Linked DNA regions of Homo sapiens: region 1 is linked to region 2. Evidence: fine-mapped QTL for protein levels in blood plasma. A gene starts in region 2. The other region holds a variant in brackets. All regions are shown on one strand. Distances are from middle to middle.

Region 1 (9,740 bases), 23 kb before region 2:
AAGTATACTCCATCAAGCAGCTCATCCTGCTGCTCTGCCTATGGAGTAGCCATTTTTTTACTCCTTTACTTTCTTAATAAACTTGCGTTTGCTTTACTTTATGGACTTGCCCTGAATTCTTTTCTTGTGTGAGGTCCAAGAAAACTCTGTTGGGGTCTGGATCAGGATGCTTTTCTGGTAAGGCCCCTATCATCATCCCACCTAAGAAAACAGGAATCCCAGGGAACCTAATTTCCCCTCGTACAAAATATTTATTAACTACTCACACCCTTGAGGTGTCTTGGTAGGAACTGAACCACTTAGTTCAGACATTGGAAGTGATTCCAAACTTGGCTACTCATGAGAATCACCTAGGGAACTTAAAAAAAATCCTGGGTCCCAACCCTGGTGATGCTGACACATTTGGGCCCTCCCAAGATTTTTGAAAGCTGGAACCATCAATGCAGGAAAAACCTTAAAAGTGAGTGGACCCTAAAATCTTCCTGGGGGCAGATTTCCGTGCTTCTGGGAGGGTCATTTCCCTGAGTCATTACCCTCCTTAGTGTTCTGGAAAATGGCAAAGTACATCAAATGCAGGGAGGATTCCTCAGCAGTCATGACAATTGCTATTTGGGTTAAGTTACTGCTACATCTTTAATATTCCCTTGGGGTGAGTTGTTTGTTTGTTTGTTTGTTTGGGGAGCAGCATGGGGGCTAGGATTTTTTTCTTAAAATGACTTTAGAATGCTCAGCTTATTTTTGTGGATGGGCAGACAAGTTATAATTCAAACCACAGTTTGAACATTAGGTAGAGAGAGGTAGAGTTATAGTTTGAAAATTAGGCAGAAGAAGACAGCACAGGTGGGTGAGATCCTCACTTTACAAGAAGGTGGAGGCTGAGCCCAGGATCCAGTTGCAGTTTGGAGCACCAACCCAGACTTTGGGGTTGGAACCTTGTTCTGCTGTGGCTGTTCTGTGGGTTCTATAAGGCTAGGGCTATACCCCACCTGCTGCCCAAGGGTAAGGTTTACCCTGAAGGAAGTGAACGTTCCCTAGGAAGACAATGAAGGCTGGAATGTGGGTCTTCATTGCAACTCAGAGTACCCCTGACCCCCACAGCATGGTGGTGAGCCTGCCCTTCCTCTAGGGAGCAGGATGCCCAGGAGTGGGGCATGAGGCACCCACAAGTGAGGACAGGTCTAAGCCTGGAGATGCCTACAGTGGCTACCTTTTGAAGAAGTGTTAAGTTACTCTCTGTGTTTCCTTTATTACCCTTGATCCATCAAAAAAAGTTGTATTCAGACATACAGCCTGATCTCTTTGTGCTGGAAGGAATCTGGGGAAGGACCTCTTCCAGGCTAGGATTAACAGGGAGAATAGCAATGAGAGGGAGGGGTCAGCATTTCTTCAGCTGCAGGAGGCAATTAGTAGACACTTAAAGAGGATCTGAGCACAGCTCAGCTAATTTAAAAAATCAGCATAATTTGAGTTTTAACCAAAATATGACTTTATTTTGTATTTGCAAGGCACCAAGGTCTGCTATACACAATTAACCTCCCCTGTCCTCCCCTCCCTCAAGGCTTCTGTCTGACAGACTCAGCGGGAGGAGGAAAGGAAGAGTCCAGCTCCTCTGCTGCTGATGACCCTAATAGTCCTCCTACCCCACTGGGCTGCAATGACCACATCTGCACCTATAGTCCCTCATCCAATTTGGGACTTATTGCAGTGCAGACCTTAATCCTGGTCTCTCCCTGACCTCCTGGCCACTCACACACCCAGTATATCTCCATGCTGTCCCATAGACACTTCAAACCCAGCTCCTCAAAAACAAGCCCCACCTCTTCCTTCTCCTGCATTCTCTCCCTTTGCTAGAGCACAAGCACCCACTCGGTCCTCCGTGCCCCTCAGCTGCCTCATCTAATTCTCACCAAGACCCACTTCTGGGCCTCTGCCTTCCCTTCCACTTAGTACCTCAGGCCCAGTCCTCATCATTTCTCCCTTGGACCACAGCAGCAGCCTCCTGACAATTCCCCAACACTCAAAGTGCAGTCCTGGCATGCCGAACTTGGAGACAGCGAGCTTAGGTGCACACCCAGGTCCCCAGAGCACTCAGCAGCTTTCTTCACACATTTTCTCTTCCCTTCTCTCTTGACCAGATACAGAAGAGCCAGTGGGAAATTGAGAAGCCCTTAACAGGATGGTGGAGCCACAACATGGAAGGAACCTGGGCTCCTGAATGACTGTATGGAGCAAAATCCCCCCACATACTAACCCATATTGAACTGTGGTGGTTTGTTACAGAATTAACCAGCCATGATTAATAGTGAGCAACTCAAGAACAAAAAGAACAAACCTATAATAGAAAAGCAATGCTTTTCCATTCACAAACCTTTCATTACAAAATGCCGGTCGTGTCCTACAGCCAGAGTAGTGAGTATACCTCGCTGGAGGCTGCAAGGGCCAGCCAGTCCCCATACACAATCAGAGCTCTCTGCAAAAGACGTAATACCACCAGCCCTGTACTGTACTCTCTCAATTGCCCTCTAGTTTCCCCACCCCAATATTGCAGTGTCTATGATCACTGAAGGAAAATGAAATATGATTCTAGGTGTCACCTTTCAAAGGGTGTTAGTGACTGTCAGCTAAAGTGATTTAAGCCCCGGAAAAACCTCTGTGTCCTTTTAACATCCAAAACTAATCCTCTTCACACCAGACATCGATGTTAAATAAACAGAGATTTCCATTAACCTACACCTCTGTACATCTATTTTTAAAAAGCGGTGTCACTCTCCTTTAAATGAACATACTAATTAGTGTATTAATAAATAGCTGAATGGAATCAATGAGACATGTAATCAAGGTCTGACCAGGAGTCAGGGCCAGGTTGAAGGGGGTGGGGGGAAGGAGAGGAGGGAAAAGAATCTTATTAGCAGGTTTGCTGAGGAGGGACATGTAAAATCAATGCTGCACATGCAGCCAAGATGCAGCCGAAGTTGACAGTAGATGGAAAGCTAAGTGCTTGCTCCGCCTCCTTCCTTTGACAGGAAAGCTCCCGGTGAGAGTTAATGTGATGAGCAAGGAAGACATTAATTGGGGCAGGAAAAGCCATTCAGAGATGGTGTCCAGGATCACAGCTGGCAGAGTTACCCAGAACCTCAGTGCTAAAGCCCTGACTCCTAGACCTTGTTTTAAAACACTAAGAAAGAACACACTTACGAGAGTTGATTTAGTTCTCAGCAAACACTTGGTCAAAAAGAAGTCACAGGGGGAGTTATTTGTTTGGGGCTCTTTGTTACTCTTACCCCCCTTCAAAAATTCTGGTTCACAAGCAGTAGCTGGAAGTACCTTTGCCCCAAGATGCTAGGCACTGGGAAATGAAGGGCCTGGATTCTCTACAGGCAGCCCTGGGGGTGGGAATGGGGCAGCCCGCTTCTTCATCAGCTCCCAATTTCCTGTAGCACACCCCATAGCTAGAAGGCTCTGGAAGGTGAGAATAAAAAGTCCTTCTGCAAGTGTGAGGTTTCCAGCTGAAGTGGTATCTGATTACCCGAGCCGCTGCTCACTGGATCTCAAATTAGCACTGATACTCCATTTTCTTCATCTGGAGACACACCCCCTTTGGGCCACAAAACACTGGACAGAAGAAAAGTGGACTTTCATTTCCCTAAAGATTAATATCAGGAGAAATGCCTTTCTGTATAAAATCAATTAGGTGCCTGAGACCCTCACCCCAAAGCCAGCTCAGTGATGCTAGTTGAAGTAGAAGTTGTGTTAGGATAAAAGAAACTCAAAAAAAAAAATTTGCCTTGGGGCCAGTACTGCCCATTACAAGCCCTCTTAGGGGTGATTCTGCCAGGAGGCAGGGGATTGGCTTGTTAGCAGTTAGAATGCTTGGCTCAGGATTCTGGGGTGCTATGGGCTCCCATGCCATGAAACTGAAGTTCTTCCTAATTCTGGTTGCTGGAAAAGCCAGTATCTCTGGGTGGACCTCACAGGCAGAAAACCTGCTGCTCTGAATGCCTAGCTCTGGCACGGCATCCACACATGGATGATCTAGAAGCCTTGCAGATGCGTCCTGAGATATGTTTCTGCCAGCCCCAGGCATGGCCTGCAACCTGCTCACCCTGAGGTCAGCATTTCCTGGAATGACAGGGA[G/T]GACACACATAAAGGAAGTGTGGGGACATGGCAGGAGGCAGCTCTCAGCAGCCCTTAGGCTATTTTCCACATTACTGCGAATGGTATTTTGCCCCCAGGAGGTTCATAACAGTCAGAAGGATCTCCAGGTTCCCCAGACCCATCAGAAAAGCCAAGGGGTGATGGTCATCAGCCCAGGGGGAGAGCTTCCTGACAGGGTACATGAAAATTAAGTGCAAAAGAGGGGCCAGAGACAGCTGTCCCCCAGCTCAATCTGAAGCACAGGCACCTAGAGAATGGCCACACATAGGACCTTCCCATCTGGTTTGAGAGGTCCTAGCAAAGCACCCCTGCACCAGTCCATATCTTACTCCCTCCATTGACGTGCTAAAAGTCTGCCACTGGAACATGGTTTCTTTGGGTCAAGCATCATGCTTTCTCTTTCAACAACCTACACCTTAGTGTACCTCCTCCATCACCTCTGTTTTTCTGTGGCCCAAGGATAAACAGAAGAGAGTGGAGAGGGTGCAAACAGCAGGGTCCCCACTGATCTACATGGCTATTTGCTGAGAATTAGGGAGTGCTGTCCTCTCTGGTTGACCAGAACTTGGTAAACAGAAGGCATCTTGGGGGAAGAAAAGGGCAACTCTTCCTGAGCAAAGAGATACACCAAGCCTTGGCCAATAAAACATGAGCAGAATTTCAGCCCTTATTTGCTCCCAGCTCACAGGTATACACACTACAGTGTATATCACCAAAAGCCCTGTCTAAAGAAAGAAAGAGAGAAATAGAGAGGAGATACCCAAGTACTTGGGGCAAAATTCAACTATTTCTCAATTTTGCCCAAGGATACCCATTTGGAGATAGATATAGATATAGATACATGACTATTTTCAAACCAAAAATATCAGGACACACACTCAAGCAATGGCACAGAATATCTGAAACACAGGCTGTTCTAGTGAACACAGGGCCTGTGGTCACTGTAGAAGGGCTGAAGAGTAGAGGATGGCAGTGACAAGGACCCTGGGGGGACAGTGTGACAATGAGGTGCCCCTTTTCCTTTAGGGGACAGAGAAGCAATGGCAAATCTCCCCATGGTGTGCTATGTGGTGGAAAGACCACCTCCACAAGACCAGAGCCGGACTCTCTGCTCACAGATGTCCCATCACCTTCAAAATACACTGACACACTCCGTTTCCAGAGTCTCCAAGCTTTTGTTCCCTCTCCACAGGGGCAAATCACCTTTCTCCACAGTCAACCAGTGGTTCTTTCCTCTCTCAGCCCGAGTGTTGCTGGGAATAATGCAATGTTTCCAGCTTAATCGTTTGTCATCATGCAGAGATTTCACTGATTTCAAAGCTAAGGTGCCTGGAAGAATCGAGCACGCTCTGAACCAGGGTGCCTCAGGGCAGAGGGTTCTCACTGGCTGGCTGGCTTTACACAGGAGAATCCCAGAGGCCCTTACTCACCAGTTTAAGGCTATCTTTCCAGGAAACCAGGGCCTGGGGCTGAAGACAGCTGAGATGGGCAGTGTTCATAAATATCACCTATTGGAGGCAAGTGAGGACATCCAAGTATGCAAACACCATGTACACTGAACACACCTCTCTGGTCTCTGATGGACCACTTCAGCTTTCTGACTTCGTTGCAGGCAAACATTAGCAGATGCCCCATCCTGCAATGCTTGGCATAATTATCAGGTAGGCTCCAGGCAATAATTACTCACTAATGGTTAGCCACTGCTTTGAGCCAAGAGTCTCCTATCTGCTCTCCCTACACCAAATTCAGAGTCTTGGGTGGTAAACCTGAAGGAAAAAAAAAAACAAAAAAAAAACAGTAACCATCACCATGGCCTGGCAAAAAAACCACATTATCTAAGATATCACTCCAGGTCCTATAAAAATAACGTATGTTTACATGTGGATGGCTGATCTGAGCACAGATTGAATATATAAACGTGGCTGTTAATTCTAGACTCTGAGAAAATTCTGAGTCTTCCAAAAATAAAGGAATCCCTACAAATATTTTTAAATCTTTTTTTAAGAGGTCATACTCTGACAGAGAGCCAGAATTAATGCAATGGGACCAGCCACCTGCTCTTCTTCCCTTCCCATTTGCTTATAGAACCTCAAGGCAGTAGACTTGTTGAAGCCCAGTGTTAGAAACAGATGTGACTATTTATAAACCAAGAAAACTGAAGTGTTTTAATCCAACACAGGGTGGCAAGAAGCAGAACTGACAAGCTTTAGGAATCTGAAGAACAGGCAACAATTTTCAATAATATTACCTCTCCACTTATTGAGCATTTAATATGTGTCAAGCAGTGTGCAAGCTATTTCCCACGTATTATGTCACTTAATTGTTAGAGCAGTCCCTTATTTTACTCTTTTAATGATAAGGACACTGAACCTCAGAGAAGACAGGTAACATGCTGACGCCACACAGCTGAGTAGCCAAGGCTTGATGATGTCTGTAAATTACTTTAAAATGCATCAGCTTAAACAGAGTGGTATAATGTAAGTTAGTTCCAATCCTTACCCAAGGATGGTTAGTCGACATCTGAAGTATTGTAACTAACCAGGGCTGGTGACTTAGCCTTTGAAAGCCTTGCATCAGAGTCTACACTGTTTGTTAAAAAACATAAGAGATGTTGGAAACAATTTATCAGCAGGAAATTAAGCAGTGTCGAATATGCATAATTGGTTAGAAATGCCATCCAGGCATCTCTGCCCTTTGGGCACAAGAATCTGGCAAGCCTAGAGCCCTCTGTGGCTCCATTCTTGGCCTAGGGGTCCTACTAGGGTCTATTTCATCTCTCAAAGGATGCTGTCCTCTAATCCCACTAGAAGGTGAGCTGAAACCTGCAACCACATTGCCACATCTGCCTCAAATAAATCTTCCTTGAAATAAACTTGTAAGAGTTACTAAGTCAGTGCCTCCCAAACTTTCTCACTTCCTGACACTTGCAGAAAGTGATAATATTTTTACCACACCCTGGGGCCAGAGAGGGAGCTTCTGCTGCTGCATGCCCCTCGTGCCCTCTGGCTGTCCACCTGCAGGGTTGAGGTGACCCGCTATATCAGCAAACCTTGATACCCTTCCCCGGCACACTAGTTGAGGCAGACAGCAGGATCCACACTGAGCTTCAAAAACAGGCTGTATGGCTATTTATGTGCCTGGTTACTAACAAATATTGGTAGGTAGGGTAGAATTGAGTCTGCAACTTGCTTTTGTAGGAAGGTTGTGGAGGAGAAGGCCCATAGCTCTCACCTGCCTATAATCACTGGAAATGAGTCCCCACATAATCTGCCCATTGGGCATGGCCAAGTTGGCATTAAGTTGGGTTGCAGTGCCAGACCTGTCTGCCTCCAAAGTCTATCCTGGGTCCTGGGTGCTCCCCTGCTTCTGGAGCCTAAAGAAAGTGAATCAATGGTTATTTGTCAAACCCAAAAGGGAAGCTCTTCAGAAAATGCCATGTCAAAGGGTTCCGTCCTTGGCGCTGTGCTGTTTCATACTTTTATCCGTAAGTTGAATGAAGACTGAGAGTCACATTTATCAAATTTGCAACGGACAGATTCCAGGACTTGTGAAGGTCAAATGAGATAATATGAGAGAAGTCATTTAATAGTAGAGTAAGACTCAACCCATTGATGAGGATGAAACAAAGTTTAAGACTATCTTAGCAGCCTGAAACAGGGTCAAAACTGGAACCCCAAAAAGAAATTGAATGTGACAAACATAAATTCAAATTTTAGGCTTCAAAAAATATTAATGAATAAAGTACCAGGTGGCAGAAGTTTGTGTAAGACACACATATAATGAGGGTGGGAGAAGCTTAGAGACCCACTGGTTACGAACCAGCAGTGGGATGGGGGCTGCCCAGAAACCCTGCCACATGAATGAATTTTGACATTGGGCTTTGCTATCCACACCTCCTGCAGATGGTGACCTGCACCTGTGATCAGTCACAAAATTAGATGTGGAGTCAGACCTACCTGCACCATGAGAAGCAATGAGCTCTCCATCAATGTGCAAAGCAGTTAAAAGAGAAGGAACCCTCTATCACGTGCTACTGAAGTTGAGTTGTTCCCATCCCCTGCAAAGGCTCCCAACTTGCCAGCACAGCCAGGATGTTTGGCTCAGAGAAAAGAGGTGGCAGGAGAGTTTATCAAAACCTACAACTTAAGATTTTCTTCACAGAAGATGGAGGAAATGGCGGCAGGGGGGGACGTAAAGATAGGCAATCAATTACCAAGGAGCCCTTGAATAAAAATCTCTTTATTTCCTTGAATTTTCCTTTAATTTATCTTTTTTTTAAAAAAAAAAAAGTTTTCACCTTTGCAAAACCTTTGGACTTTTTGACCAAAGACAACAGGAAGTCAGCCAAGTTTAATGGAGTTTTCATTTTGAAAAAGATGTTATCTGCAGCTCCTCTGTGCCTACCAAGCAATATGGTACGTCTGTGGTCTAGAGACCAACTCATTAGGTGCTCTGTTTACCATCAGCTGGTGAAAAATGATAATTGTATGGAAGAATAATCACCAAGACATGGACATCACTGCCTGCAGACTTCGCCAGGAAGCTACTTCCCACTTCCTGTAGATCCGCAGCTGTTTCAGGATGTGTAATGCCCTCTACTGTCCTACCATTCAAATACTTCTCTTTTCAAGCTCAGAAAACCAAGTTTAAGGTAGGGAGAGAGAGAGAGAGAGAGAGACAATCAAACAACCTTATGTTGGGTCCAGAGGGAACTGCAAATGTGTCTAAGACAATGCCTGCTTTCAAGAAGCTTGCAATTAAGTGGGAATATGAGATGTAAATACTGAAAATACAAGCCAATAAATCATATATTACCAGGAAATTCTTGGCAGGCTGAGTTTTCAGAAAGTCTCTACGTGTACTACTGTCTGCACACAAAAATGCCCAGACCTGGCATGTGGCTAAGTCTACTTGTAAAATTTGTTACCTGGTTAAATGCTGTTCCATGCCTACCAATATTTTTAAGTTTTCAAATATAAGTTTTAGGTGAAAATGCCATTCTTTCAAAACAGTATGTGCTGGAGAAATGACATTTTTTCAAAGCAAATTTTCTATATTTGGTCATGTGATATTCTGTAAGCTTTTTTATAAAGGCTCTTTAGAACATTCCAAAAATGAGCATCATCAAATTAAAACAAGAGAACTTCTATTACATTGCCACAAATCCTAGATGTAAATAAAATACCATTTCACTCAATAATGATTGCCAGAAATATAAATACAGTTTAGAAAAATTATTTAATTAGTTTATTTTTAAGTATTTGCCAAGAAGGCTTCGGTCTTGCTAGTATTAAGTCCTGGGAGAAGGAACAAAGGAGAGTGAAATGAGCTACAGCAACTTCATGCAATTGGGCCTGGGTTTAGCAAAGCTCACTCTCTCTCCTCCACACCCCCAACAATCGGCCTGGGGCCAATGACAGCCAAGATTCTTTGTCCAATTTGACATCATGCACATGGCCAGTACCCCGCCTCTTTCGCCTTTGCCTGCTTTCTTAGATCTTCTCATCCGAGCATAAAGCCAGCAGCCCCTTTGAGGACATCTGATACCCCAGGTCAGTAAGTAGTCTCTAAAATGAAACATAAGA
Region 2 (9,740 bases):
GTGTGTGGGGGCATACACAGACTCACATAGGGACTCAGGAAACTCTTCTTCCAGGCTGCTCCATGCCATGCAGGGAAGCAGCCTCCTCCTTCAGGAACAAGGCCTGGGCTCTTGTTCCAGGGGAATCAGGACCCCTGCCTGCCTTTCGTTTTAAAATCCATCTCTTACCACTCAGCAGCAGAGCCCCCTTCAGTCTCCCTGTGGGCTCCACCTTCCTACCGCAACTTGAATGGTACAGCCTGGGCAGTGAGGACAACATGAAAGAAGAAAGAAAAAGTCTGTGCAGCTAGAGGGGATCAGGTGGGAGTCTGGGGAGGGAGCAGTGGAGCTTGCAGCTTTTAAAGAGACAGTGTCCTGTCCACAGGGCCCTGTGTGGACCAAGCATAGCTCGATAGAGCCTATAGGCCAATTACCCTAATCATGTGCATCTCCCAAACAGCCATTTATTAGTGAGACGTCTTTTTAAAATGCCGCTTTTAAATATAAATAACACTTAATCATCCAGCTGTCGTTAAATTCATGTTATATTGATTTCTTGGAGTGCCGCAAATTTGAGGGCGAATGGGCTGGCGGATGTGCGCACAAAGCCAAGAGGTAGATTAGCAAGTGGTGGGGGCAGAGAAGTGGGGGTTGGAGGAAAAGGAAGGGAGGTGTCAAGGGAGGGAAATGAACCTACTCAATAGCCCAGGGTCTGAGCCAGTTTCACATTGGGTAGCACTGGACACAAATAAGAAGAGAGGAGACGCTGGCACATCTGTTGCATAGTCTAATGAGAGCCAAGATCATGGTCGTGTTTTCTGTATTGCTGCCGCCCCCTTGTAACCCACCACAGAGCCGCTCCAACAGGTCTCTGATGTGCATTGTCTGCGTATGCCTTCTCTAGGTGAGGATGGGGAGAAGCAGCTAAGAAATGCCCCCTAGCTGGCTAGGAGGAGAGAGATCCACAGCGATTTCTCTGCATCAAAGCCTGATGATAACTATGAATCAAGAGTGGTTAATGACCCAGCCCCTTTAGCTCTCTCCCACTTCGGGACTGCTGCCATCCTAGAAAGCCCCCACTTCATTCCCAGCAGCCCTCATTGTGATGAAAAGGATCCCGAGGCCAAGTGTATGTAGGCAGACTCTGCCGTGCAGATTTCCCTGTCTGCAGGGAGTAGCAGCAGCAGGCGACAGGAAGGCACAGAGAAGGAGAAAGGAAACAAGTTGACTGCCTTGGAGTCCTCCAGAAATGTCTGCAGTGTCCCAGTGGGCATCCAGGAGGAAGTCCTGGGAGGACAGATGAGAGCCCGGGGAGGCGTGATTGGGTAAGAAGGAGCAGCTTGTAGGTGACCCATGCCTAGTGCTCACAGGAGAGCTGCCTTAAGCACCGTCTACCAGGCAGCGAGGGTCTGCTGAAAAGAAGCATTCATGGCTGGGGTTTTTCTAGTGTGACTCCCTTCCCAGTGAGAAAGACCTCAGAGAACTTAAAAGGAAGGGCACAGAAGAGTGGCAGAGAGGGTGAATGACAGCGTGGCATGCTCCAGGGCTGGGCAAGAGAGCCAGGAAAACGTAATGTATACTCCGCTTTACAGAGATGTTAATTAATGCCTGCCTTGTCCTAGAAACCAAATTGGTACCTAATGCTAAGTGCAGAAAGTGCAGAGATTTTCTGAACCCAGATGTTTAGCTTATAACCAGCATAATGATACTAGCTTTGCATTAAAATGATGGATCCTGAGGCTGCGAATACATGAGAAAGGAAAGAGGGTAGGGAGGAAAGCAGAGAAAGGAGTGGAGGTCTACAGGGAAGACACAGACATTTCAGGAAGATCCTGTACCCTATCCCTTTGCCTCTTCCAGGTCCCATGAGGGACTGTTTACCTGGGAGGCACCCACTGTTGCTGGAGCTCATTATTTCTTTTGCAAACCATGTGCTGCTGTACGCGTAGGTGGGATCTGCCTGTCCACGCCCTCAAGGGGCATGTGGGGAGAAATGTTCCATTTCTTCCACAGCCCGGAAGACAGAGGTGGACCCCATTGTCACACATGGCGGGGGCGGGGAGCTGACCACATTTAGCCAGACTCTGAGAACGCATGTGTGTATATATATTGGGTGTGTGTGTGCACACGCCCACCATTCTTAAAAAGCAAATAAGGTTTCTTCCCCCTACTGGGGTCTCTCCATTGTGAGAGATTTGCTTTATTCCATCTATGCTTTTCAATCAATCAAAGGGCAGCTCACACAGCACACAGCGGGAATACAATCTCCCTCCCGGGGTGTCTGCGCTTCTCCCCAGCCTAGCCAGAGACCTTTGCAGGAGCTGAAAAAAGTTTGGAAATAGCGGAGTCAGGGTGCTGAAAAAGCCCTTTCATTCAGCCCCTATCTTCAGGATTTACAAAAACAACCCAAATTCTGAGCCTAGCACTGAGGCCTCCTTGTTCAAAAGAATGTTTGCTCCTCTTCCATCATGTTCTGTAAGGCTCCTAACATATTTTTTCCACTGGTGGGTCTGTGGGATACTCTGAACACATGATCTTGGACAGAGGGTACAAGCTTATTCAGTTTTGTGGGAAAATGATATGATCATGTTGCCTAGAAAGCTACCTCAAAGTGACAGCACCAGAAACACAGGAGCTTGTACATATATATTCAATTCCGAATTTGATTTGGATCTCATGTTCTTCTCCCTATGACAACTGAGACCCTAAATTAGTTGCTCTTAGACCCCAAGAAGGGAACTATGGAAAAGCCTCTTAGAACCCCAGCCACTTCCTACCTCCTCCAGAAAAAGTTAAAATGAGCAGCCTGTGAAATTCCAGCCAGAGAGAACAAGAATGAAAATGCTTTCGGGAAATAGGACCTTAAAGCACGGGCGTCTGGGGAGTGATTCTACAATCGGAGCAGGCTTGGGCTCTGGGGGACGCTGGCAGACCCACGAATGCCTTGCCTTCTCCGGTGGGCAGTGCCGCCACGGTCGTGAGGGAGGGGAGCCTCCTCTTTTGGAGGACTATATCCCTCGTGCTTCCCCCTTCTAGTTCTCTTTCTCAGACACACACCACGAAAGGCATGTGACAGGTGTTCGCCAGCCGGAGGCACCGGGGAAGGCAGCCCCATGTGCCCAGGGAGGGTAGGGAGGTGAGAGGGGACCCAAGTCCTGTGTCTCCAAGTCCTGTCTGCTTGCTGCTAAGCAGGCACTGAGGCTGTGAATAAGGTCTTACCTTTTAAGGAGGATCTGACCCCCGTACCTTCCCTAGACAAGCAACATACGCGGCGATGCTTTAAGCCGCTTTCTGCCTGAAATCTCGGCGCATTCCCGGGGAAGCAGTGCCACGCTTCAGAAAGGCGTTTGTGCTGCCTCTTACTGGGGAAACGCAGTGTCTGTTTCATATGCGCCGCCCTACAGAACTGCAGCCCCAACCGCCTATCTGGCCTCCTCCCCGGGCGCTGGGCCACCACTCTCTCCAAATATGCGTCCGAATATCTGTGGGTCTGTCTCCCGTTGAAATCCCAGGGTGTCCAAAGGCCACGGGGCCGCGATGACACTGGGTAGGTCTCCGGAAACCTCTCAGGACTTCTCCCATTTTAAAGCCCAGCTAGGGACGAAAGGGGCTGGGAGCTGAAAAATTGCTCCCTCAACCTCCCCGGGTGGGAGGCAGAGCCGGGAATACACAGAATCCCACCCCGAAAGTCCCGGGAAAGAGAAGTCTGAGTCCAGGAGCGTGAGAGGAGAACACACCCGGGAAATCCCTGCTCCGGCCGCTGCACCTCCGCGGGCGTCCAGGTGGGACGTGGGCAGGTGCGCGAGCGCCGTGTGTGCCGGTGTGGATCTGTGTGTGTGCCTGCGTGTGTGCGTGTGCGTGTGCCGCGGGCTGGCTCCGGGACACTGAGGACTCCCGGGTCGGCCCAGGTCTGTCCGACCTTGCTGCCCTCGCCGCCCGCCCGGCCCCACTCCCCGGCGGGCCGGCTCCTTACCTGGACGCGCCGCGTTTCCCTCCTTCAGCGGGAGCGCCGCATTGACACTGCAGATGGAGCCTATGCCGCTGCCTCTCGCCCTCCTCTGAACGTGTGCGTGTGCGCGCGTGTGGCTGCCTCCTCCAGCCCCAGCCCCGAACGCAAATACTCCACCGAGGCACAGGGAAGCCGGGAGCAGCCGAGGAACGCGGAGGGCGCCGAATCAGAGCCTGCGGGGCTTGACAGCTTCTCTTGCGGCGTCCAAGGTGGGCGTAATGTCCAACAAAAAGGTCGGAAAATGGGGATCGATTCCGAACACCCCTTTCCTCCACCCAGCCCCGGAGCCCGAGCAGCGGCGGCGGCTCTCGGGGGCTGCGGTGGCGACGCCGGGCTGCCCCCCTTCGTCCCCACCCCCGCGGGCTGAATGTCCTTGATGCCAAGCGGGCACAGCGGCGTCACTCCGCGCCGCCCATGCTCGCCCGGTCGGGCCGCTGCCCGGGCGCGGCGAGTGCGCGGGGGACCCGCCGGGGAGCGCTCTCGGCGCCTCTGCGCGCCTCTCTGGGTAGCGGCGGCCGCCCCCCGGCAGCCCGCGGCCGGCCGCGCCGCGGCAGCCCCCACCCTTGCCGAGACACTCGCCGGGCAGTGCCCTGGGGCCGGGGCTGGGGGGCCGCGGGAGCCGCCGGCTGCTCCCCGGGGAGGCGCGGGGCTGCGGCGGTGGTGGCTGCGGCGGCTGGCGCTGCGGCGGCGGAGAGCTCGGCCGCGGGCCGAGCCGGGCCTCCCGGGCGCGCCCCCGGCCCCCCGGGCGGGCTGCTCGCAAAGTTTGCAGGGGGCAGGGAGCGGGGCCGCCGCTGGCTCGGCCGCCGCCGGAGCTCCCGGGCTGCCTGCTGCCGCCGCGGCTCGCTGCTGCTGTGCATTGAAGCCCGGCCAAGCGCTGCAAAAACTCCAGCTGCCTGGCGCTCTCTGGGTCCTCCTCTCCTCCCTCCCGCCCTCCCTGCTTCCCTTCCTCCCTCCCTCGCCTCGCCTCCTCTCCTCCCTGCCGCCCGCCGCCCGCCGCCGCTCCCTCTCTGGCTCGCTCTCGCTGGCTCGGAGCTCGCGGCTGACATCTAGAGCGAGGGAGAGCGGCCGGCAGAGGGGGCAGGGGGCGCCTCCCTACATGCTCCCACCCGCCGCCGCCCGGCTTGCCGGCTCTCCTCCGCACCAACGTTTGCCGACACCCCCCTGGGTCCCCTCGGCCCGCACGGAGCTACCCTGGCGGTGGCGATGTGGGGCGGAGAGAGGGGCATACATGGGTGACCGGAGCGCACGGCGCGCGCTCAGAGGGAGGCGCTCAGCCGCCTCGGAATTTGCAGCTCTGGGCGCTGGCCGTCGGAGGGACCCTCAGGTGCTCAGAGCTGACACAAGCGCACACTGACTCTGAGGCATACACCCATTGCTAGTCAGAACCCCTCCCAACACCCCACCAAGTCACCCCCACATGGCACCCAAGGAGGCCGAGGACACTGAGGGCACAAGGCCCGCACGAGAGAACATGAGTGGCCAGTGCCCCAGAGCTGGCTTGGTAACCTGACTTTTCCATTCATGTTTATACTGAGCGGCTCTCCTGGCTCCTCTCTTCTCTGAAACCCTAGATCCTAGACTACATCCAGAACAGACCATGCCAACATCAGGGTGGTTTCTGAAGCCCAAAGAAAGAAATCACCATGTAGCTCTGGTTTAGGCAGTGAAGATGGGGAGTGGGTGGCACTACCTCCCAAACCTCTGCCTAGATCCCCCTAGGAATGGGCCCACCCACCAAGAGAAACCGAAGGGATTCCCACACCTGTTAACTCAACTCTGTGCATGCCACCCTCATCCTCATACCCGCTCCCACCATAGTCTGAGGGAAGTGGCACCTTCAGCAGAGTCCAGTAAGCATTCCCTGGGATAGGCAACCAGCAAGGACGACCCTCTAAAGGAGCCCATGGCTCTTGGCCTCCTCTCTCCTGTCCCTTCTTTAGTTTTCACTGTCCTCACACCCAGAAACTCCCGCCCATTACTGTCCCTCCCATCGAAACATCTCAGAGCCTCCTTATTAGGTGGACATGACTGATAATGGCTTAAATGCCTATACCTCCCTATAGGGGTTATATTCTCACAGAAATCGAAGTTGTGTGAATTGGGGAGCCTTTGAAAGGAGCTGTGAGATGACAGCTTAAACAAGCCCCAAGGTGAGCGGCACATATAGGTCAGGCTTGGCCCACCCAGAGAGGACCCTGCTGAAACTTTGCTCTCACCAATGAGAAGATGAACCAAGCCAGAATGAGGAGGAAACCACATGTTTGATTCTTTGGTTAAAGGATATTCCAGGAGACAGCGTGGAGCCCTTTTAGTCTCTGGTTCTCTGCTGAGTCTTGCATGGCCCAGAAAGCAGCAAGGAGTTATCTTATTAAGCTTACATGAATACATTGATCTGACTCCACTCTTCCCAGAAACCCTGAATCCCAGACTCTAGATAAAGCACACAATATCAGGTTAGTTTCAGAAGTCCAGAGACACACATAACAAAATCACTCAATGCTACTGCCTCTTGAACATCCTTCCAGGGTGGAGGAAGCCCAGGGCCAAATGCCTCTCTCTGCAAGACTGGGATTAGCACAAGGCCAGCCGGGCACTGAGGATACAAAATCCAAGGAGGCCCTGTCACCCCAAGGTCCATGTAAGGTTTGCATCACCTGATCCTGACACTGCTTCTAGGTGTCCCTTTTAAAATTGCTGCATGGGTCCATCACGGCCCATTTCCAGAAGTGACAGCCCGGATAGCCCCATGAAAGTCCCTAATGGGTTACTTAAGGAATATCGTTCAATTAAAGGCGCGGGGGAGACTCCTTTCAAACTTCTGTTGGCCACTCAGCTTTCAGGGTATGTCATAAAATGCTGAAAGGAAGGGGGGAAGGTGAGAAAACAACTCTGTCTCAATTCTCAGTCATTCTAGCATGTATTTTTAATACAATCTGATTGTCTTTTTCCTCCTCATATCGGTTGTATTTGTGTGTGTGTGCGTGTGTGTGTGTGTGTGCGTGTGTGTGTGAATATGGCTTGAGTTCCAGGCCCATTTCCTGATGGATGGACGGGAAGTCAAAGACCTTTTTTTTTTTTTTTTTCCAGAGGTGGCAAATAAAATGTGTTTATTATTCTTTATCTCCTGCCTAGTGTGTGGTGTCATTTATTTTCATTCAAAGAAATGAATGCCATGTGGTGCCTGAAGAGTAATAACAGAGCCAAATGACAGGGAAGACACACAGCAAAAAGCTGGACCAGCCACGGGCAGGTGAGGGGCCCAGCGAGCTCTCCCGTTGTTAATGGGGCCAGGGGCCATATCTCAAATTGCCTTTCCCCGGTTGCCTTCCACTGAATAACACGGTAAAAGGCATACCAAAGGGGGCAGTTATCATATTATCGGAAGGAGGAGTAGAAAGGGTCAAATTAGCTGCAGTAGAGGATTTTTTTTTTTCAGTGATGACCCATTGGATTGACTCCCTTAAGTTAGGAGAATGGAATGGGGTGGGATGAGTAGGGCCTCTACATTGGAAGTTAGAAAACACATGTCCTACTCCTGGCTCTGTCATTGGCCAGCTTTACAATTTGGAGCGGGTCACGTCCTCTCAATGATACCTCATCTCTCACCTGACACATTCGCCCCTTAGAGTTGCAATGACATTCAAAGGACATACCATCTTATTAATGTGCTTTGAAACTCTAAGGTAGGTACAAAACACATGTAGGGAATTAGAGTCGCTTTCCAGATGAATGTATCTTTTTATTTTTTTCAAATAGAATGATACAATGAGGGTAGGCCTTCTGCTATCTTGTCCCCACCCCAAGAATAAATACACAGGCAAAAGCAGCATCTTACCACAGTTCAAAATGTGTTTCTGCATTAGGTACAAGATCTTCTGGCTCTCACACCTCCTCTACCCCCTCTCCCTTGGTGAGGGCTAAGGGAGACACAAGTAGGACCATCTAGGTGTCCCCTACTGACAATGGCTCTGTGAGTCACTCCCTCTACCTCTTGCCTGGTCGTGAAACTGGTTATGTCATTGTCTGGACCCATGGCCACAAGAGGGAGAAGCTAAATGGCACATTGCTTCAGAGAGTCCTGTTTTCTAAAGAAGCTATGTCTGTGGGACTTGGGTTGGGGTTTATTGCTGGGTTTAGACAGAAAAAGTATTGGTTCATCTCCCACAGCTGAATAAAAGGACCAGTTTAATAGGAAAGAGGAGAAGAAACTCTTAAGTTTCCCCTCACTTAGCTACCACCATTTTATTAGCCTAGGAACAGTGCTGCTATTTAAGTTGATAAAAGCCAGATTTGCTCGTTAAATAAATCACCAGAGCCTGGTGGTGCTAGAGAGACATTTTCTTTCCCCCAAGAGCTGCCCCCATGGCTGGGTCTTGTACCTTGCACTGGATAGAAAAACCACAGGCAGGCAGTCAGCAGCTTAAAAACCTAAATTGTGGCGCCACCTGCAGGACAGCAGGAATATCATCAGTATCCCACAGCTCAGCAGAGGAGGCAAGAGGAGCCTTCCGCAGTGACACAGGTGAGGCCAGGGTGCCCTCTGGCCCCTGCTTTCTGCATGTGTCACCACATGTCCACAGCACACTCCAGCAGCCTTTAATCTGCATCCTCCTTGAATGCTGCCATTTCGAGGGATGGGCAGCAGCTCTCAAGATTCTCAGTCCATTCAAACTAACTTATTCTTCCATCTGTCTCCTAAGGGACTAAGTGGACCTCTAAGCCAAGGGTTCTGTCTTCAAGACTGGACCATGGAACAGTAAAACAGAAAGGAGAAGTGACTGCCTTTCAAGGAAGATGAGGGGAGGAACATCCTTGTGTCACCACAGGGCCTACTAGTAAGTTGAACTTGGTGGCTGGGTATTCTCAGTAGACCCAACTGTTCCAGGCTTCCCTAGCATGTGGGTGCAAATCAGCACAGAGATATTAACATCCGAATTTCAACTCCCAGCCTTTTCTGCTCAGATAAAACTTTGGCCACCACTGAAAAACCCCTCCCTGTCTCCTCCCATTATGTCAGAGACCGCCACTGGTGGGTGTGCTTAGGAACAAGTCTGACCATTTCATTCACCACAAGTACCCTCTTGGAAATCCACTGCCCATGAGCCATTTGATGGAAGGACATCTCTGCATTGCCAGCTCTGTGGTTGCCCTCTGCAAGGGCACCTCCACCCGGCTGCACTGCTGGACATGGCAAGCTCTGCTGCCGTGCCATGGCTTTCCAAGCCACACCGGGGGGTTGGTGTTTAGGTGGGGAGGACACCCCTCTCCTCCTACACACACACACACACACTGTGGATCTTGATCCTCTGGGCACCAAAATAACTCCCATGCCTCCCATGGTCCAAGTCTTACTCCCCTTCCTCCCCAGACCCTTTCATCCACTGCCCCCTCTCCAGAATGCTTCCTTCTCTTTCAACTAACAAAAACAACAAACAAACAAACAAACAAAACTTGTCTTTTTAACCGCAGAAACCAGAAGTTAGAGGATATTGTGAGGTAAGGGGAGATGGAGGGAGGGAGGGGGTGTGACTTAACTCCATTGGCCAGAAAGAAGAGAGTCCCAGATCTGGCCAGAGCCATGTCTTGCTACAACAAGAAAGGAGAAATACCTCAGTGTAACCCTTCTTGGGGTTAAGTCCTGGGAGGCACAAGGTCCCGTAGTATGCCTGCATTACAAGGACTGGATACAATTCACGTCTCCCACATGGCACCTCTCTCTTGGCACTGCCTAGTACACTGGCTAAGTAGTTTA

The links. PIP is the chance, under the fine-mapping model, that this variant and not a neighbour inherited with it causes the effect. The UK Biobank Pharma Proteomics Project read protein levels with antibody pairs (Olink). The fine-mapping took linkage between variants from a reference panel, not from the people measured, so its PIPs are less certain.
Region 1: its variant is fine-mapped to the plasma level of the PLXNA4 protein (UK Biobank, PIP above 0.99).

The regions. Positions count from the first base shown.
Region 1 is chr7:132,549,118-132,558,857 of GRCh38, forward strand. The region is part of intron 1 of PLXNA4 (plexin A4); the gene reads right to left. Among named protein-coding and RNA genes, the nearest start is that of PLXNA4, 22 kb to the right of the region's middle. The variant G/T (reference allele first, on the strand shown) is at 4,135.
Region 2 is chr7:132,572,470-132,582,209 of GRCh38, forward strand. It overlaps PLXNA4 (plexin A4), which reads right to left and starts at 4,001. Exons shown (of 32, transcript NM_020911.2): 1 at 3,953-4,001. RefSeq lists enhancers at 2,485-3,462, 3,463-4,440 and a silencer at 8,334-8,503.